Linked DNA regions of Homo sapiens. The protein of the gene in region 2 purifies or fractionates together with the protein of the main gene of each other region. This does not show direct contact. Each region holds a gene or a part of one and is shown on either strand. Other genes may lie near its edges.

What was found.
Region 1: the proteins of ZNF214 (region 2) and ZC3H18 purify together in Homo sapiens (affinity purification with mass spectrometry; 2 studies listed by BioGRID and IntAct, with this or other methods). This does not show direct contact.

The regions. Positions count from the first base shown.
Region 1 is NC_000016.10:88,568,115-88,571,861, forward strand, and holds the start of ZC3H18 (zinc finger CCCH domain-containing protein 18), read left to right. Parts: upstream 1-2,288; 5' UTR 2,289-2,452; intron 2,453-3,747.
Region 2 is NC_000011.10:7,018,523-7,022,269, forward strand, and holds the start of ZNF214 (zinc finger protein 214), read right to left. Parts: upstream 1,825-3,747; 5' UTR 1,551-1,824; intron 1,229-1,550; exon of another isoform or gene 1,178-1,228; coding exon of another isoform or gene 1,161-1,177; intron 1-1,160. UniProt on the Homo sapiens protein: May be involved in transcriptional regulation.

The DNA.
Region 1 (3,747 bases), on a different chromosome or scaffold from region 2:
TTGTCATGCAACCTCACAGATGGTCTTCACCCGTTTATTTATATCTGTGTATACACACTGGAGGTTCATGCGTTAGCATTTTTAACAACCGCGATGTTGCAAATGTTGTACCAGATTACTATTACAACAGTACAATCATCTGCTCATCAACATCTGGGTGGTTTTCTGGTTTTTTCCTTTGTTCTTTTTTTTTCTTGAGACGGAGTCTCGCTCTGTTGCCCAGGCTGGAGTGCAGTGGCATGATCTGGGCTCACTGCAAACTCCGCCTCCCGGGTTCATGCCATTCTCCTGCCTCAGCCTCCCGAGTAGCTGGGACTACAGGCGCCCGCCACCACGCCCGGCTAATTTTTTGTATTTTTAGTAGAGACGGGGTTTCACTGTGTTAGCCAGCATGGTCTCGATCTCCTGACCTCGCGATCTGCCCGCCTCGACCTCCCAAAGTGCTGGGATTACAGGCATGAGCCACCGTGCCCGGCTCCTTTGTTCTTTTAGTTATGACTACTAACAGACCTGCTATGTCCTTGTTCATGTCTCATGCCCACGGGCAGATGACACCCCAGTCCGGTGGCCCACCTGTACCACTGGGCATCAGAATCCCCTGAGAGCTCTTCATGGACCACAGGGCCCTGGGACCTCACTCCCAGTCACTGGTGCGGCCACTCTGGGGCAGAGCCCAGGAAGGCACATTGCTAACAACCCCTAGTGATACTGAGGCTGCTTGCCCGGGTCCCACTTGGAGAACCCTGTCGAGGGTGGCACTGCTGGTCACAGGGCACTTCTTTTAACTAACATTGTTTTCCAAAGAGGCTGTGACCAACAGAGTTTACTGTTCATGAAACTCAGATCGCAGACAGGCACGTGTCTGTCACAGCCGGTGCCGGCCGCTCCTTTCCATGGACAGTAACGTCCATGCAGGCTTATGTTCATCAGCTGAGAAAAGGGCACTTGCTGGGTGGGACCTTGTCTTATCGACACATAGAGTCTGCAGAAGGTGCCAACTGGTGTCGCAGGGCTGCTCCTGACACGACCCAAAATCACCAGGGTTGAATTCACATTCCTCTTACGTAACCATAACAAGTTGCTGGGACTACAGGCACGCACCACGGTGCCCTGTTAATTTTTTTGTAGAGACAGGGGTCTTGCTTTGTTGCCCAGGCTGGTCTCAAACTCCTGGAGGAGGTGGTCCTCCCACCTTGGACTCCCAAAGTGCTAGGATTACAGGTGTGAGCCACAGTGCCAGGCCTGTGGTACCTCTTCCAAGGACACTAATCCTATCAGATCAGGACCCCACCCTTATAATCTCATTTAACCTTAATTACTTCTCTAAAGGCCCTTTCTGCAAACACAGTCACATTGGGGATTAAGGCTTCACATACAAATGTTAGGGGGACAGAACTCGGTCCATAGCATGGAGTCGCACAGGTTTTGTCCTTTTGCGATTGGCTTGCTTTACTTAGTATGTTTCCAAGGTTCACCCATGTTGTGGCATGGGTCTGAACTTCACTCTTCTTGATGACTGACTCACACTCCACTGCATGGACAGCCAGCATTTTGTCTGTTCCTCAGTTTGTGGACATCTCGCCCCCTTGTTTCCACCTTGGGGATATGGAGGAAGATGGGATGAGCGAAGCCCTGTGATCCCCAGGACCAGCCACGTCGTTGGCAAGGGTCAGCGCAGGATGAAACCGCCGGCCCCTGGTCTCCGGCCGGGCCCTCCGTCTCTAGAGCAGCTCGCACCGCTGCAGCCCCTGGACGCCCCGGGCTGTGGACGCGCCCGTGGGACACCGCGCTGAGCAGGACACGCGACAGGTCCCCTCACTGGCGCTGCTCGCGTTGAACCGCGCGGGGAGCCAGGCAGCCCACGGGAAAGGTAAGAATTGTTAGGCTTTTAATCTAAAGTCGATACCTCAAAAAATAATTCCGGAGGTAAGCATTTAATATCAACATTCAATAAAGCAGGAAGTATCAGCCCGACGAAGACCGCCTTAAGTTTTCCACTTTGATGAACTCGATCATCCCCGGGGATGAAGAACCCGCCGGCCCAGCCGGAGCCCCGTCACGTGACCCGGCGGCCGCGGGGAGCTCTGTGCGCAGGCGCGGATCCGCACGCCCGCCGCCTGAGAAGCGAACTCCCCGTGGCGCCTGCGCTGTAGCGGGGGTTCGGCTGGCTCGCGCGGGTCCGGGCGCGCGCTGCGGGGGCGGAACCGCGCGGAGGCCGGAAGGAAGCTGGAGGGGGCGGGGCGAGGGAGGGAAGCCCGCCGGCCGTAGGACTACCGTCGCGGCCTGATGACGTCGCACAATGGCCGGCCCCCGCGGGTAGTGGAGCCCGTTTGTTCCGCCCGTGTCGAGCCTGGAGCCAGAACCTGTGAAGAGCGGAAGGGCCAAGGGACGTCTTCTCCACGCCGCTCCGACTCCAGGGGAGCCGTGGCCTCCTCTCCGCCCTAGCGCTGAGGTTAGCTGGGGCCGGGAGGGCGGCGGGAGGCCGGGCCGGCGGCGGCGGGAGGAGGAGGCCGCCGAGGCGGCGGCGGCGGCCGCGGGAGGGAGGCCCGGGAGCCCGGCGCGCCTCCGGCCGTGCGGACCCACCGGCCGAAGCGTGGCCCTCGGGCCCAGGGAAGGGGACCTTGAGACAGGCACCACCCCGAGTTCCGTCCGTAAGCCGGCCCCGCGGTCCTGGGGCGCCCTGGGCGCCCGAGCTCCTCGCGCGCTGCCTCCGCGCCCCGCGGCAGAGTTTATTTTCCTGAAGCTGTCATTTCTCTTCCGGGCCACTCGCGTGGCACATGTGTGCCGCCGGCTAAGGGGCGGTGAGAGGCGCCCAGATTCACCTCCAGAGTAGGTCATCCCGGGCTGCTGCTGGGCTCTTCGGAGAACTTTGAGCTCTTTATGAACCTCCTGGAACTTGCTCCGCAGCTTCAAAGTGTGCACAGGTTGGGCGCAGTGATTGCCCCAAGACGCGCGCCGGTCTCTTAGGAGTATGTAACTTCCTTGCCCCTTGGATTAGGAGATCAGAGGTGCTGGGTCCTTTATATAGACCAACTGCAGCTATAATGCTGGAAGAACTGAAACTTAACAGCCTTACTCCTGCCAAACATTTTTCCTGAATACTTTATGACAACTGAGTTTGCCGGGTAGAGTGGCCGTTTTAAATGAGCTTTGTTCGAACAACGCTAACTCATTTGCAAGAGTAGGTCATTCTTCAGACCCATTTGGGAAAATGGAAGAAGAGAGTGTTTGGCATCTGAAGTACCGTTTGGGGTGTAGCAAGGTGCTCATCATGTCTCCTGTTAGACTCACCTCCAGCCTGTTGTCTGTAGAGTAGTCCTTTCCCGTTCAGTAGTTGGGATTATCCGGGTGAGGTTTGACCTCGGCTGAATCCCGCTTCCCAGCTTTGGGAGGAGAGTCTTTTCCTGATAATTTTACTATCTAAGGGCAGTATGGAGCCCAGCCAGCCCTGGAACCAGTCAAATGTGTCCCAAAGCCGGAAACTCCTCTCCCGTTGTAGGTGGGACATGCTGAAATATTGTAAGAAAGCTTTGTGGAGTCACTCCAGAAAGCAAACAGGTAAGTTAACCTATGGCCTACATCGTGTTTACAGAGATTTGTATTTTGTCACAGCTACAGAGCATCTCAAGGTGAGTACCTCTTTATCAAGGAGTTTAGTGGTCACGCTTGGTCACTTTGCACGTGGGGTCTGTCACCAACCTTGATAACGTTCATTTAGATATTTTAAGTCCATGAGGTTATGAGTCA
Region 2 (3,747 bases):
AGGGAGTCTTCCTCTGTTGCCCAGGTTGGAGTGCAGTGGTGCCATCCTGGCTCACTGCAACTTCAGCCTCCCGGGTTCAAGCAATTCTCCTGCTTCAGCCTCCTGAGTAGCTGGGATTACAGGTGCCTGCCACAATGCCTGGCTAATTTTTGTATTTATAGTAAAGACGAGGTTTCACCATGTGGGCCAGGCTGGTCTCAAACTCCTGACCTCAAGTGATCCGCCCACCTTGGCCTCTCAAAGTGCTGGGATTACAGGCGTGAGCCACCGCGCCTGGCGATGACATTCTTATAATTCTTTATCTCAGAACACCAAGAACAGCATGAATTATACACTAGACTTGAGTGACTGAATGAATGAATGAGTAAATGTTGGGAAAAGACACTGGGTTGGGGCAGGGTCAAGTCTGCACGCTCGAAAATTTCACAGGCAAGCGAGGAACGTTTTCTGTCCAGTCATCCATCCATCCTCATTGCCACCTCCACCACCCATGGAGAATGCAGGGACATTTTGTAAATGAGAAAAGACAATCATCCTCACTTGGGATCAGACTATGAGGGAAACAGTGTACATTCCTTCCTCCTTTGTGTTCCTCTTCTGGGGAAGGGTAGAGTGCTGAGACGGCTGAGCTGAGGAGGAAGGCAGACTGAAAACCTGGGTATGGCTTTAAATTCCCAAATTCATTAAATTTCCCATATACTAACTGGGTATGACGCACACATCTCCTAGCAAGAGGTCCAAAAGAAGCCTATGAATGCTCTTGTTTCCTTTCAACGACCAGAAAGGAGAGCTATGAACACTGGCACCTTGAAATTTATTTCCAACCCTCTAGAAACTTCAAAAGATACAACTCACTTATTTATTGAGATTATTATTACTACTAACAATAATAGGAAAGCACCAGCACACTTAAATAGTATCTATTCTCAAGGTATTTTTCTTATTTTGTTCAGTTTAAGTAGAAAATCATTCCATTGTCCTCCCCTACTTGCTAAACAGGAATACTGGATTTACTATCAGAAAAGTACCTGGAGTCTTAGAGAAGTATCCCAGAACTGGAGCTCCCAGGTCCTGATCAAAGTCTCAACTGTGCCATCAAGCACTTGTAGAACTTTAAAGAGGACCAAACTTATAGATCTCCAAGATCTCAGTTTCCTTACCTGTAAAATGGGGGCATGAGCCTTTGCCACCCCAGTCCTTCCTTGCTGATCAAAGGTAGGTTCCTGGGCAAAGTAATAAGCAATTAGTTAACCCTCTTTCTCTAGGGAAAAAACGTTTCATGCGTGCCCCAAGAGCAGGACAGGTTTGGGCTCCCCCAACGCGTCACGGGCTGCCCAAGTGTAAGCACCAGAGAACCAGACACACGAACGGTTCTCTAGGAGCGGGATCTCCCGGTCTCCGCCACAGACCCGGGGGTCCCCTGCTCCTGCACTGAAGACGCGCGCGGCCTCCGTTGCTTATCCAGATCCCCGGCCAGAACTCTGCCCCGGCACCGAACACCGGGCACCCATACCCCGGGGCCCAAGCTGCTTCTGCCCTCCTCTACTTGCCTTTATTAAGTCTTAACGTGGGAGAGAAGCCGTGATGTACCCATCTACACGGGTGTCTCTGGGGTTTCTAAACCGGAGTAGCTTCTCAGTCCCTGACCCTCGATTTTCTGCCCCTCTTCCTTCAAGCACAGCTCGTCTTGCCCTGTCCGCTTCTGGCTCAGTCCTCCTGAGAGTTCATGTCACTTAACGGAGCCTGTGAGAGTGGACCGGGATGGCCAAAACACTCAGTCCACACAAACAATGGCCGCAGCCCGGCTGGACCGAAACGGAAGTCCCAGGTCTTGGAGTAGACACTCGCAGTGTTTCCATGGATACGGGAGGGGCGGGGCGGGAAGAGAGAGCGCGGGAAAACGTGACTCCTGATTGGCCAGAAGTATCCCGCGCCTCCCGACCTTTGGCCGCTGGCATTCCTGCGCGGGCGGGAGCTGCGGGCGCTCGGGGGATAAGGCGAGGACGCACCAGCATTAATGGAATAGGAGAACTCCCGAAGCTTTTAGGGCCCTGGGAAAGGGGGCGTGGCTGGAAACGGAGCTACTGGCTTCGGAGAATTCTGTGACCCTCACCACCGCGACGACCCCGAGGAAACGCTGTCAGGTCGCCTTTGGTTGGCAAGGCGTGGTTGTCCTCGCTGTCCCGCGCCTTGGCGGAATGGGCACCTCACTAGCCCTGGCACTAGCTAGCATCGCTCTAAACTCAAGGTTAGAGGTTTTCAAATTCCGTCCTATTGTTGCCAGACACCCTCTTCGTTCCTGGTCCAGTGAGGCTTTCCTCCCTCCCGCCTTCTTGCCAAATCCCAGGCTCCTCTGGAGACTCCAGGCAGAGAAGGGAAACGCACAGTGGAGCTGAAATGAAGCCATGAGAAGGAGCCCCTCCTCAGTGTCCTGGGACCACAGAGAGTTGCAAGAGCCTGTTCTATTATTTAGCTGAGTGTGTTATATTAGGAAAATACTTTCGCATCTTTGGGCCCTGTCCTTCAAACTTGGGCTGGATCAGTAATATTCAAACATTTTATTAGGCAAGGAACTTTTGGTAGGATAGTCATTACAAGCAAGGGACTCCTTGGATTCAAATCTGACAACACCACTTACGAGATCTTGGCTGGATTACCTAACCTTTAAGCATCAGCTTAATAGGCGTAATATTGATAGCCAATAATAATAGTAACTATGTAACAGACTTGTTAGATTGAAATGAGTTAGTGTAGTTAAAATGCTTAAACCAGCCCCTTGCACATAGGAAGTAGTCTTGTGAACTATATATTTACAGTTTGGTGTTTAGCAGGGGTGGGTGGCCCAGCGCCTATCTGCTTGAGTTCACCACACAATAAGCTCTTGCATTTTTTATGACTCTGGAGACCACATTTTGAAAATTACTGGGCGTGGGCCTTCCCTGGTTTGAACATTCAGAGAGCATAGCATAGCATTTTAAAAATGTGGGCTTTGTTGTCTGACGGAACTGACATTAAGAGCTGTCAATCATTGTTATCCACTAGGTGGTGGTAAGCAAGTTGTTTAACCGCTCACCCTTAAGTATTTTCACCTGTAAATTGCAATGTATTTATTTATTTATTTTTTATTATACTGTAAGTTTTAGGGTACATGTGCACAACGTCCAGGTCAGGTTTGTTACCTATGTATACATGTGCCATGTTGGTGTGCTGCACCCATTAAATCTGTCTCTGCATTCAGTAATTCAACTATCAATTGCGGCTATTTAAATACATTAAAAAGCAATGTATTTAAATAGCCGCAATTGATAGTTGAATTACTGAATGCAGAGACATTGACCGGTAAGAACGAACACTGGAAGTGGGCTGTTCTGCCACACTGCTTCCAACCTGAGAATATTACCTGAACCTCATTGAACTAACCAAAATTAAAAGAAAAAAAAAAAGCTAAGAGGATCCAGTTTTCAGAGAAACAAAATGTGTATCTGAAGGAATATACCTGCTAAAGGGCAGAGGCCAATATGAATAACAAAGAGCACCAAGTATAGCATACGCAAGACTTTTAGGAATGAATTCTACCCAGTTACAGTTTGGGGTTTAGCAGGGGTGCCCGGCCTAGAGCCTATCTGCCTCCGTCCACCACACAGTGAGCATCTGCATTTTTTATGACTCTGGAAGCTACATTTTGAAAATTATTGGTCATGGACCCTCCCTGGCTTGAATGTGCAGAGACCCAAAGCACCAGCTTTG